Linked DNA regions of Homo sapiens: region 2 is linked to region 1. A link means that fine-mapping ties the variant in region 1 to the expression of a gene that starts in the linked region. Tissue or cell type: whole blood. Region 1 holds a variant in brackets; the other region holds the start of a gene. All regions are shown on one strand. Distances are from middle to middle.

The links. PIP is the estimated chance that this variant, and not a neighbour inherited with it, causes the effect.
Region 2: RNASEL starts here. The variant in region 1 is fine-mapped to the expression of RNASEL in whole blood (INTERVAL, PIP 0.98).

The regions. Positions count from the first base shown.
Region 1 is chr1:182,678,098-182,683,246 of GRCh38, reverse strand. The region is part of intron 1 of RGS8 (regulator of G protein signaling 8); the gene reads left to right. Among named protein-coding and RNA genes, the nearest start is that of RGS8, 3.9 kb to the left of the region's middle. The variant C/TGAATGAAC (reference allele first, on the strand shown) is at 2,625.
Region 2 is chr1:182,586,061-182,591,209 of GRCh38, reverse strand. It overlaps RNASEL (ribonuclease L), which reads left to right and starts at 1,954. Exons shown (of 7, transcript NM_021133.4): 1 at 1,954-2,043; 2 at 4,240-5,149. The coding sequence starts at 4,404. RefSeq lists an enhancer at 2,079-2,238.

The sequences.
Region 1 (5,149 bases):
AATCACTCCAGTAAACTAGTCTTTATTAACTGTTTGTTCTCCACCCATTCTTAGAGCAGGTTTCCTGAAAGAAGTGTGTGTTAGACTGGAAAGGTGATAAGTGAGTGGGCAGTAGAGTGTGTAGTGTGGCCCACATCTCACCATGGCCAGGTCAAGGTAAGCCTCCCTTGGGTATCACATCCTTCTAGCTTCTTCTTTGTTTAAAGATTTTTTCCACATAGTGTCTAACACAAAAAGGGATCTGAAAACTTGCTCTTATTCTTGTCCAGGTGAATGAAACATGCCAGTTAGGTGAAGGTCTTTCTCCCGTGGGTCAGTGAACTCTGACCTGGAGAACATGGTTCCTTAGTCACAACAGCCATGCCACTATAGCAAGGGGCTCTTAGAGGACAGAGCAAGAGTGTGGATGGACAGCTGAGCCAAACCCTCATCTTTCTGTTAAGAAAAACCCTCCAAGTGTGGATCTCAGCCATGGGTCAGCAGCAGCATGAGCTGAATAGGCAGAGTTGGGGTGGAAAAAGTACTGGAGGTCCTGGGTTCAAGTCTTCTTAGGGCCATTAATTGAATTACCCTGGGCCCTCCACTCAGGGCCACTGAGCAGCTTCATCTGTAAAATGAGTGATAACAAGTGTCTGGCTCACTTTCAAAGGAGCTTGTGAGGATCAGCTGAAAGGAATGATAGCTCCCAGTGGTCAAGATGTGCTGAACAACTTTGCCAGGTACTTGCCCACATGATGCTGTTTAATTCTCCCAACTTCCTAGAACAAATTGAGGCTCAAGGGGGGTAAAAAAAACTCGAGGAAGTTCAGCCAGAGAAGTGAAAGCACCTGTCCTTGTATCATCATCCCCATTTACTCTCTAACAGACCCTTCAGAACCTTTAAGCCCACCACTCTTGCCAGGAGCAAGGGTGCAGAAATATGCCTGTTCTTCCAACTTAGCAGGTGCTAAGCCTCAAATGTCCTTTTTGTTCTCCATCTTCCTTTCTCAATCCCAGCTCCAACTTGTGACTTGTGATTATAAGTAACAAAACTCACATTTGTATAGCACAACCCAGCTTGTGACTGCGCTATACAAATGTAAGTTTTGTTAATATAATGACTTTATGACTTAGAACAATTTTCCTGTCTATTCTATTCCAGGCTCTCTGTTTTATGCTTTCTGGTTTCTTCTTTGTCCAAACACCTACATTTCTAGAGATGTCAGAAATGCTTTCTTGCTTCCCCTCTGTGCCTGGGGGGTATTTTTCACGTCCAAGAAATATCAGCATCATCATCAGAACCTTTGCCAGTGTTCTCTGCATGGAATTGGTCAGTGTTCTCTGTATGGAATTTCCCAAAGGCTTTTGAATTCAGCAGTAAAAGGTTCTAGAAGGAAGAGGGTCTCAGAAAAGCTGAGTGGCTTAAGGTTGATTCCTCCCAGGGCCTTGTCTCTCAAGGAAAAGTGTCAGGGGGAATTTGCTCAGCATCTCCGTGCATCGGAGTGCACCCACACAGCCCTCGTCCCTCCTCCCGCCTCCAGCTCAGACATTAACGTGCACCAGCACATGCCCGCAAGCAAGGCGTCTCACTGAGTGCTCTCAGTTCCCAGTTCTGTGTGAATTTCGGAGCAAATACCAGTGGGAGAACTGTCCCCAGAGTCCCAGACTCCACTCCACTATTCCCTGCTGCTGTTGCTGTGGCCGAACCCCACTCCTGGGTCTGATGGCTGTGGATTCTCCTTGCTGCGTGATTCTAGGTGTCTGGCTAGAATGGAGCTAGGAGTGAGGACATGAAAGCCATTGCCTGAAGTCATTAAAAATGGAGGATTAGAAAGAGCTTATTTTATATTCAGAGAAGGGGGAGAGTGCTGAAGCTGCTCTCTGCCCACAGCTGTAGACTCTGATGGCAAATGGTAAAGCTTTTGTTACTATCTGAGAAGGGGAAGAGATTGATAACCAGCACCCTGGCACTGAGCGATAGGAGGGAAAGCCACATTTCAGTTGTGACAGGGTTTCATGCTTGCCTCTCAGCTCCATGGCTTTGAAAACTACATCCCTCTGCTTCTCCACCTTTGGCCCTCCTGTCCCATCCATGCAGCCTCCACACCTCTCCCCACTGGGTGTGGGGCTTCTGCCTTCTCGGACTCTGATGTTCTCCCTGTGACTCAATGTTTTCATAAGCCTAAGTGATTTACAGCCCATGTTTACTTATATATTTCACTGAATTCTTGCAGTAACACAGGAAGTGGGCATTGCCTTAGTAATTCTGATTTCAGAGATGAGAAGGCAAGGTCCTAAGCCAAGGAGAGCCTGCCATAAAGGGGCAGAGTTGGAGCTTGAACCCTTGTTGCTGACCCTGGAGCCTGTGCCACTCTGTGACTCCACACTGTCTCTGTTGGCCAGCATCCTACACCAAACACAGTTTCCTCACCTACCTGCTGGGGGGCTCGTGTCAGCTCAACATACATTAACTGAGCCTTTTCCTGTTGCCGGGGACCGTGCTACATTTTGGAGGTGTAGAGATGAAAAATACGTTTTTTACCTAGGCAATGTACATAGGGAATGTAATGTACCCATGCCTGGGACCTTGCTTGGCACATAGGAGACACTTAAATGTTAGTCAGATGAATGAATGAATGAATGAA[C/TGAATGAAC]CCATGCTTTCTGCCCTTGATGAACTTAGGATCTGGTTAGGAGAAGAGAGTTGCAGGTACCTAGCTATGCCAGGTGCTGACATAGAGAAGTGTGCCTGGAAGCCATAGGAGCACAGAGGGCATTTCCTGAACTTGGGTGTTCAGGTGAGGCTTTTGGAGAAGTCGTCCTGAAGTGCAGCTTGAGGATGAGCAGGACTCACTCAGATCAAGGACATTCTGGGCAGAGGAAATGAAATAAAGGAGGCCCAAAGCCATGGAACCCTGTGATATGTGCTCATGATTATGGAAAGTGTAGAGTTATTGGGGCCTGAAGGACAAGCCAGGGAAGTGGTAGGTGACTCTCAAGGTAGCCAGACCTTGGGGTGTTTGTGTATCAGGATCCTTCTTAAGCTGGAACTTTATCCCTAGAGTAGGAGGGCTTAAAGGTTTTGAGGAGAAGGAAATGCAGTCATGTTTGTGACTAACCAGGTGATTATGGCTGCAGATTGGAGCTGAATTTAAGAAAATAGGCTGTCTCATGGGGACCAGAGACTGTGAGGACGTGAACCAGGACCGTAAGGACATGAGCCAGAGCAGTGGTAGCGAGGATGGAGGGGAGGAGACAGATTTGAAAACTATGAAAGATTTAATCAGTATGATTTGGTAATTGGTTGTCGACAGGAGATGAGAGAAAGGGAGTTGCCTGTAATTACTTTCCTATTTCTGGCTTGAGTTACTCAGTAGATGGTGGTGCCAGAAACTGAGATCAGCAATTCCAGAGGAAGCCAAGGTTTATATGTGTGTGTAGGGGGTGCGGGTGGAGTGGGAGGTGGGCGTGGTGAGGGCGGCGGATAAAATGGGCCAAGAAAAGATGGGAATATGATGTGTCCATTATTTAGATATATTTGCAGTTGTTAGGCCTGTAGGATATCTGAGGGGTATGTTCAGCAACCCAAGGACTATCGGAGTCTACATGATTGGGAGCTATTGGTGTCTACATGATGGGAGAGGGGCTAGAGTTGGACAAAAATATTTAGAAATGGTCAATATACCCAATGTAGTTAGGACTATGGGCAAGGATGAGATTGCCCAAGTAGCATGCAAGGTGAGAGAGGCAGGAAGCTAAGATTAGAGAGGAAGGAAAATACCAGTGTTTATGGGGTGGACAGAGGAGGAGGAGCCAGCAAAGGAGACCAAGGGGAAGGGCAGCCAGGGGAGTGTAATGTTGGGAAGTCAAAAGAGAGAGATCCAAGAAATGAATGGTCACCATGGCAAAGGCAGCAAAGAGGTTCATAAAGACAAGTACTGGAACATTTCCACTTGAACCTCACAGTATGGAGGCTGTGTTTCGGGGGAATGGTGGGAATGGAAGCCAAATGGCAAAGGGGTTAGGAGGGGATAGGAAGTGAGGAAGCAGAGGAGACTCTTTCAAGCAGTTTTGCTGATAAAAGGAGAAACACCCAAGGGTGTTTCCCAAGGGGAATTTTTTTAAATAAAAGAGATGAACATTGTTTTTGTTAAGTGCAGAATAACATGTGAGAAAGAGAAAATAAAGATAGAGTTCATAAAGGAGGGTCCATGGGAAAGAATAGGTGGAAGGCCACAGGAGGAAGAATTCACCTTAAATAGACACATCTGAGGGCAGCTGGAAGGAGGTCAGGGTGTGTGTAATATGGATAGATTAGTAGGAGTTGTTAGTAAGTGAAAAGAGGTCCAGGTATTTCATACCTGAGGCCTTGATGATCTTGATGGGACAGGAGATCAGGTTGTGAGGGTGTGAAGAGTTGTGTATGTTGCATAAGCTCTCTCTCTCCACTCTACCTTCCTGCCCTTCAGCTGCCCTCACAGAAACTAGTTGGCCACTGGAAAGGTCATTTGTAAAACCTGAGTTCAGTGTTTAAGGCTGTGATCATAGTAGGAACAGAGAAGGGCTGTGGAGGTGAGCAAACAGGCCATCATTTCTCTCCTTGTCCAGTGTTAACATATGGCCCTGAATTCTGCCTGTATAGATGGGCAGCTCAGCAGTGGGAACAAAGGATGTGGCTGGATTCCATCCAGGAACTCTGAGTTGGAGTCCTGGCTATGCCTCTAAGAAATGTGACATTGGACAAAGTCTTCAAAGTTTAGTTTCTGTAGGTGATGTCTAGGAGTTATACCCACTCTAAACCTCTGTGAATTTTAGCACCTGCTCCCTAGGCATAAAATAATAGACTTTTCTTAAAATGGATTTATTCAAGGGGAGAAAAACTTACAATGGAAAATGTACAGAAAATCAAGTTCCATTCAAATAGTCTCCTCCTTCTGTATTTCAGTTTTCTTGTACTTTGTTGGCTTATTTTACTGAAGCCACACATTGTAGGCACAATTTCAAATATACACAAGTCAAGAGAACAGAACAATGAGTCCCTACGTACCTACCACCCAGCTTCCCACCCAAGATGATGTTGAAGCTGTTCATGATAGCATATCATTTCAACTATAAATATTTCAGAGTATACCTCTAAAAGATAAGGTCTCTTAAAAAAGCCTCAATATCAAAATTGCAC
Region 2 (5,149 bases), 92 kb after region 1:
CTGCAAAACGGAGACAAAAATAGTATATACATCATAAGGATAAGATTAAATAATTTAATACATATATAAAGTGTTCAGAACAGTTCCTGGACCATATTAAAGAGCTATGTAAATGTTTGTCATTATTAACAGAATCATCCACATTTTCATCACTCTTACTAATATCATTAGTTCTGGTAGCAAGGCAGCATAGGTCAAGATATAGAGGTAGAAGCATATGACATAATGTGACAAGGAACTGGAGGCTAGCACTGATGATGCCCATGAGGAGTAGGGACAGGCAGGGACTGTATTATAACCTGAAATCATGATATGTTGGGTTTTTCAACTGTTTATGATCTATTTCTGCCTATTAAGATGCAAGCTCCTAGAAGAACTCTGTGAGGAACTGGTGTGGTAAATCATTCTATGCCAGATATGCAGAATAGTCACTGGTAACATAGTCAGTGCTCAATAAGTTTTTTTTTTTTTTTTGAGACGGAGTCTTGCTCTGTCATCCAGGCTGGAGTGTAGTGGTACTATGTTGGCTCACTTCAACCTCCACCTCCCGGGTTCGAGCAATTCTCCTGCCTCAGCCTCCCGAGTAGCTGGGATTACAGGTGCACAACACCACACCTGGCTACTTTTTGTATTTTTAGTAGAGACGCGGTTTCACCATGTTGGCCAGGCTGGTCTTGAACTCCTGAACTCAGGTGATCTGCCTGCCTTGGCCTCCCAAAGTGCTGGGATTACAGGTGTGAGCCACCACGCCTGTCCAACAAGTATTAATTAAATGAATAATGGGTTAAGGATTTTTGAACTTTGTCCTGAAAATGATGGTGGGTCAATGATGCAGGGTGGAACAATGGATGAAGGGCTAGGAAGCAAGTCATCAATTTCTTGCTATAAATGATGACAAGGACTCGAATGGTCATCCCTTTGTAGATGAAAGCAAGAGACTTGGTGTTGGGATGAGGATGAGGGGTGGCCTCCGGGTGATGGTGCCATCTGTGGAGATGGAATAAGTGGGAGGAGGGGCAGATTTAGGAAAAGATGAGTATTTCCATTTGACACATATTCAAGATTTGTAGGTCTAAAGCTCAGCAGAGAGGCTGGGGTTAGAGAGCGAGGCCTGGGAATCCCTGGTGTATAAGGGGTGGTAGAGGCCCCGGGTCTGGATGGTGTGACACAGGTGGTCGTCAAGTGACCATGCACTACTTGTTGTTCACAAGTCCCAGGGCTTTGTCTCCCCAGCAAGACTGGGTATTCTTTGGGGATGGAAATACTTTCCACTACAGCACTAAGTACACAGTACACAGCTCATTGCTAGGAAGATAGTCAAGAACAGAACTTGTAGAGCAGAAAGGAACCTTCAAAACCAAGTTATAGGAGAGAACTGAGGCCCTACATGGTTAAATCACATGCCTGAGGTCACTCAGCTAAGCAGCCACAGAGCTGGCTGTAGGATCAGGTCTCCAGACTGCCAGTCCGGTACCCTTCTGAGAAGGCCGCACTGCCTCAGAGCTGTGAGTTGAGTGAGCTGAGAAAGGTGACAGGGCTTGGGCTTTGGGCTTACTTAGCTTCTATGAGCCTGCGTTTCATAATCAACAAGATTGTCAGGGGTTAACTGGGACCATGCTGCATGTAAAGCATTGTGTCTGGAACACAATAGGTGCTCAATATGTGTTTACTTTCCATTCCTTTCTTCCAAGAAGACCAGAATTTGCAATGACAAAGAAAGGATGCAAGAGTGATGGATGCAGTTGGCTGCTGCCACCTGAAAGGCTGCAAGACTGAGAGGTGAGTGACATGACCCCGGGCATCACATTCCTCATCAGCAGACAGAAAGTGGCTATTGCTTTCCTCCAGAAGGTGTGCAAGTAGAAGCTTTGCTCCTGGTGCCAGAGTGAGCCTGTGGCTGCTTTCCCTCCCACACTCCTCACTCCTTTCTTGGCTCCGCCCTGCTGACTCAGTGACGCAGCAGGAGGAAACTGCTCGGGCTGCAAGCAGTCTTCCAGGCTTTGCGGCTGCCAAAGGAATAATTGAGACGTCTGAGTTGAGCAGGTAAGGCAGGCAGAAGGAGGAAAGCTAGAAAACCTCGATAAGTCGATCCTGAAGAATTCTTGGGCTTTGGAGACTGGAGAGGCCAGGGGCTGGAGGACTTGGGAAGTGGGAGGGGAGCTCCCAGCCCTTGGCTGCCCGGAAGGATCTTCCTCCAGTGCCCTTCCAGAGTTCTGTCAGAGTCCACACGTCATTTATCCATGTCCTCAGTTTCTCAGGCATCTCTTTGCGACTTACTCAGGTCGCACAGAGAAAGTGAAATTGAAAGCAGGATTGTCTGTTGGAGTACTTCCGCAGGCTCGTCTCTTCTCTACTCTGATGCGTCACTCAGGGCTTCCTTGATATTTCCTCTCCTTCCCGGCTCCTTTGTTTATACCAGCCCACCTCACATCTGATTGTAATGGGGACGGTCTACACAAACACTTTGGTTCAAAGATTTCATTGCCTGGTGATCGTGTATGTGTTGCACAATTAATTAAACTTCTAAGAGGCTAATCAATTAACCTCTGAGGCTTTGAAACTGTCAGAGTGGTGAGATTGCTGAAAAAGGGTTGCTTCGTGAATTCTATAGCAGATGCAGTTATTTAAATATTCAGGTAACAGTTTCGGGCTGTCTGATGATTGAACTGGATCTGTAATTCTCAGATCTGATTGACAGTTGGACGAAATTGATAGCTGCCAGTTGCCTATTCGTGTAGTAGCTATATGCACATGTGTAGGGAGAATAGAATTCACTAAGCAATTTATTTTTTCATAACGGGATATAATTAGCTCTAACATTCATTGAGTGGCTAATATTTGCAACACTCCATACTTTAATGTACTTTACACACATGACTGTATTTATTTTTGTCTCCATTTCAGGAAATAGAAAATTGAGATTCAACAATCCAAGGTTACAGGAAGTAATAGTAAAAAATTACACAGCCACAAGCTCAAACTTAGATCTCCCTAAGGTCAGAGTACAAGCTCTTTTCACTACTGCAGATACTCCTTGACTTATGATGGGGTTACATACAGATAAACCCATCCTAAATTGAAAATATTGTAGGTCAAAAGCACATTTAATACACCTAATCTACTGAACGTCATAGCTTATCCTAGCTTACCTTAAATGTGCTCAGAACACTTACATTAGGCTACAGTTGGGCAAAATCATCTAGCTCAAAGCTTATTTTATAATAAAGTGTTAAATGTCTCATGTATTTATCGAATGCTATGCTGAAATAAAAAACAGAATGGTTGTATGTGTACTTGAAGTGTGGTTTCTACTGAATGTTTATTGCTTTTCCACCACTGCAAAGTCAAAAAATCATAAATCAAAGTCAAAAAACATAAGTCAGATATTGTCTGTACTTTAAATAGGGGCACAGGGTTGTACAAAGAGGACATGCACAGAGTCAGCAAACACAGTGATCAACCTTCCTGGTGACATAAGAAATGCAAAGGGAAAAAAAGCCAAGAAATATATTTTTCTTATTGAATGAGGGTTCTTCTTTTTTTATTGATAAATAATTGATGTGCATATTTTCATGGTCTTTTTTTTTTTTTTTTGGAAGCCACCTATCTCTGGTAAGAATATATTTATATGACATTGAAAGCAATTTGTTAATATAGGTTAAGAATCCTAAATACAATCATATCTTTTGAATAGTCATTAAATTCTTTGAAGTCTATCATATGAAATCTATCATAAGATCTATCGAAAGAAAATAAACTAAAATAAGCTGAATTTGCTGCAACATCATTTAGATTTTTTAAATTTTTAATTTTAAAAAACCCTTTAAAACTTATTTTTGAAAACCACTCAGTAATAGAGAAATGAAACAACTGTATGATTTCATATTACATAGTCATGAAAAATGTTTTACAAGACTTTGCAATAACACAGGAAATGACTTATAGTATGGTATTAAATGAAAGGAAGTAGGATACAGTTACTTACAGAGTATAATTCCAAATGTCTTAAAAAATATATAGAAATACACTAAAATATTAACATTGGCTGTTTCTGGGCATTGGGACTAGAGAAATAATTTTCTTATTTTGAATTTACATATATTTATAATATTCTGTAATTTAAAAGTTTTATAAGAAATAAATATATGTATTTAGAAAAAATGCTAATATAATTAATTTCTCTGATTCAAGTGTTTTCTCCCTATTGTAAAATTACAAAGCACCTCTCTTCGTTGCCAGGTGGAATGTCAGAAGACTGAGAACATTGTTCCTTCTTCATACTGCTGCTCTGTTGCCAGAGAATCCCAATTTACACTCAAAGCTTCTTTGATTAAGTGCTAGGAGATAAATTTGCATTTTCTCAAGGAAAAGGCTAAAAGTGGTAGCAGGTGGCATTTACCGTCATGGAGAGCAGGGATCATAACAACCCCCAGGAGGGACCCACGTCCTCCAGCGGTAGAAGGGCTGCAGTGGAAGACAATCACTTGCTGATTAAAGCTGTTCAAAACGAAGATGTTGACCTGGTCCAGCAATTGCTGGAAGGTGGAGCCAATGTTAATTTCCAGGAAGAGGAAGGGGGCTGGACACCTCTGCATAACGCAGTACAAATGAGCAGGGAGGACATTGTGGAACTTCTGCTTCGTCATGGTGCTGACCCTGTTCTGAGGAAGAAGAATGGGGCCACGCCTTTTATCCTCGCAGCGATTGCGGGGAGCGTGAAGCTGCTGAAACTTTTCCTTTCTAAAGGAGCAGATGTCAATGAGTGTGATTTTTATGGCTTCACAGCCTTCATGGAAGCCGCTGTGTATGGTAAGGTCAAAGCCCTAAAATTCCTTTATAAGAGAGGAGCAAATGTGAATTTGAGGCGAAAGACAAAGGAGGATCAAGAGCGGCTGAGGAAAGGAGGGGCCACAGCTCTCATGGACGCTGCTGAAAAAGGACACGTAGAGGTCTTGAAGATTCTCCTTGATGAGATGGGGGCAGATGTAAACGCCTGTGACAATATGGGCAGAAATGCCTTGATCCATGCTCTCCTGAGCTCTGACGATAGTGATGTGGAGGCTATTACGCATCTGCTGCTGGACCATGGGGCTGATGTCAATGTGAGGGGAGAAAGAGGGAAGACTCCCCTGATCCTGGCAGTGGAGAA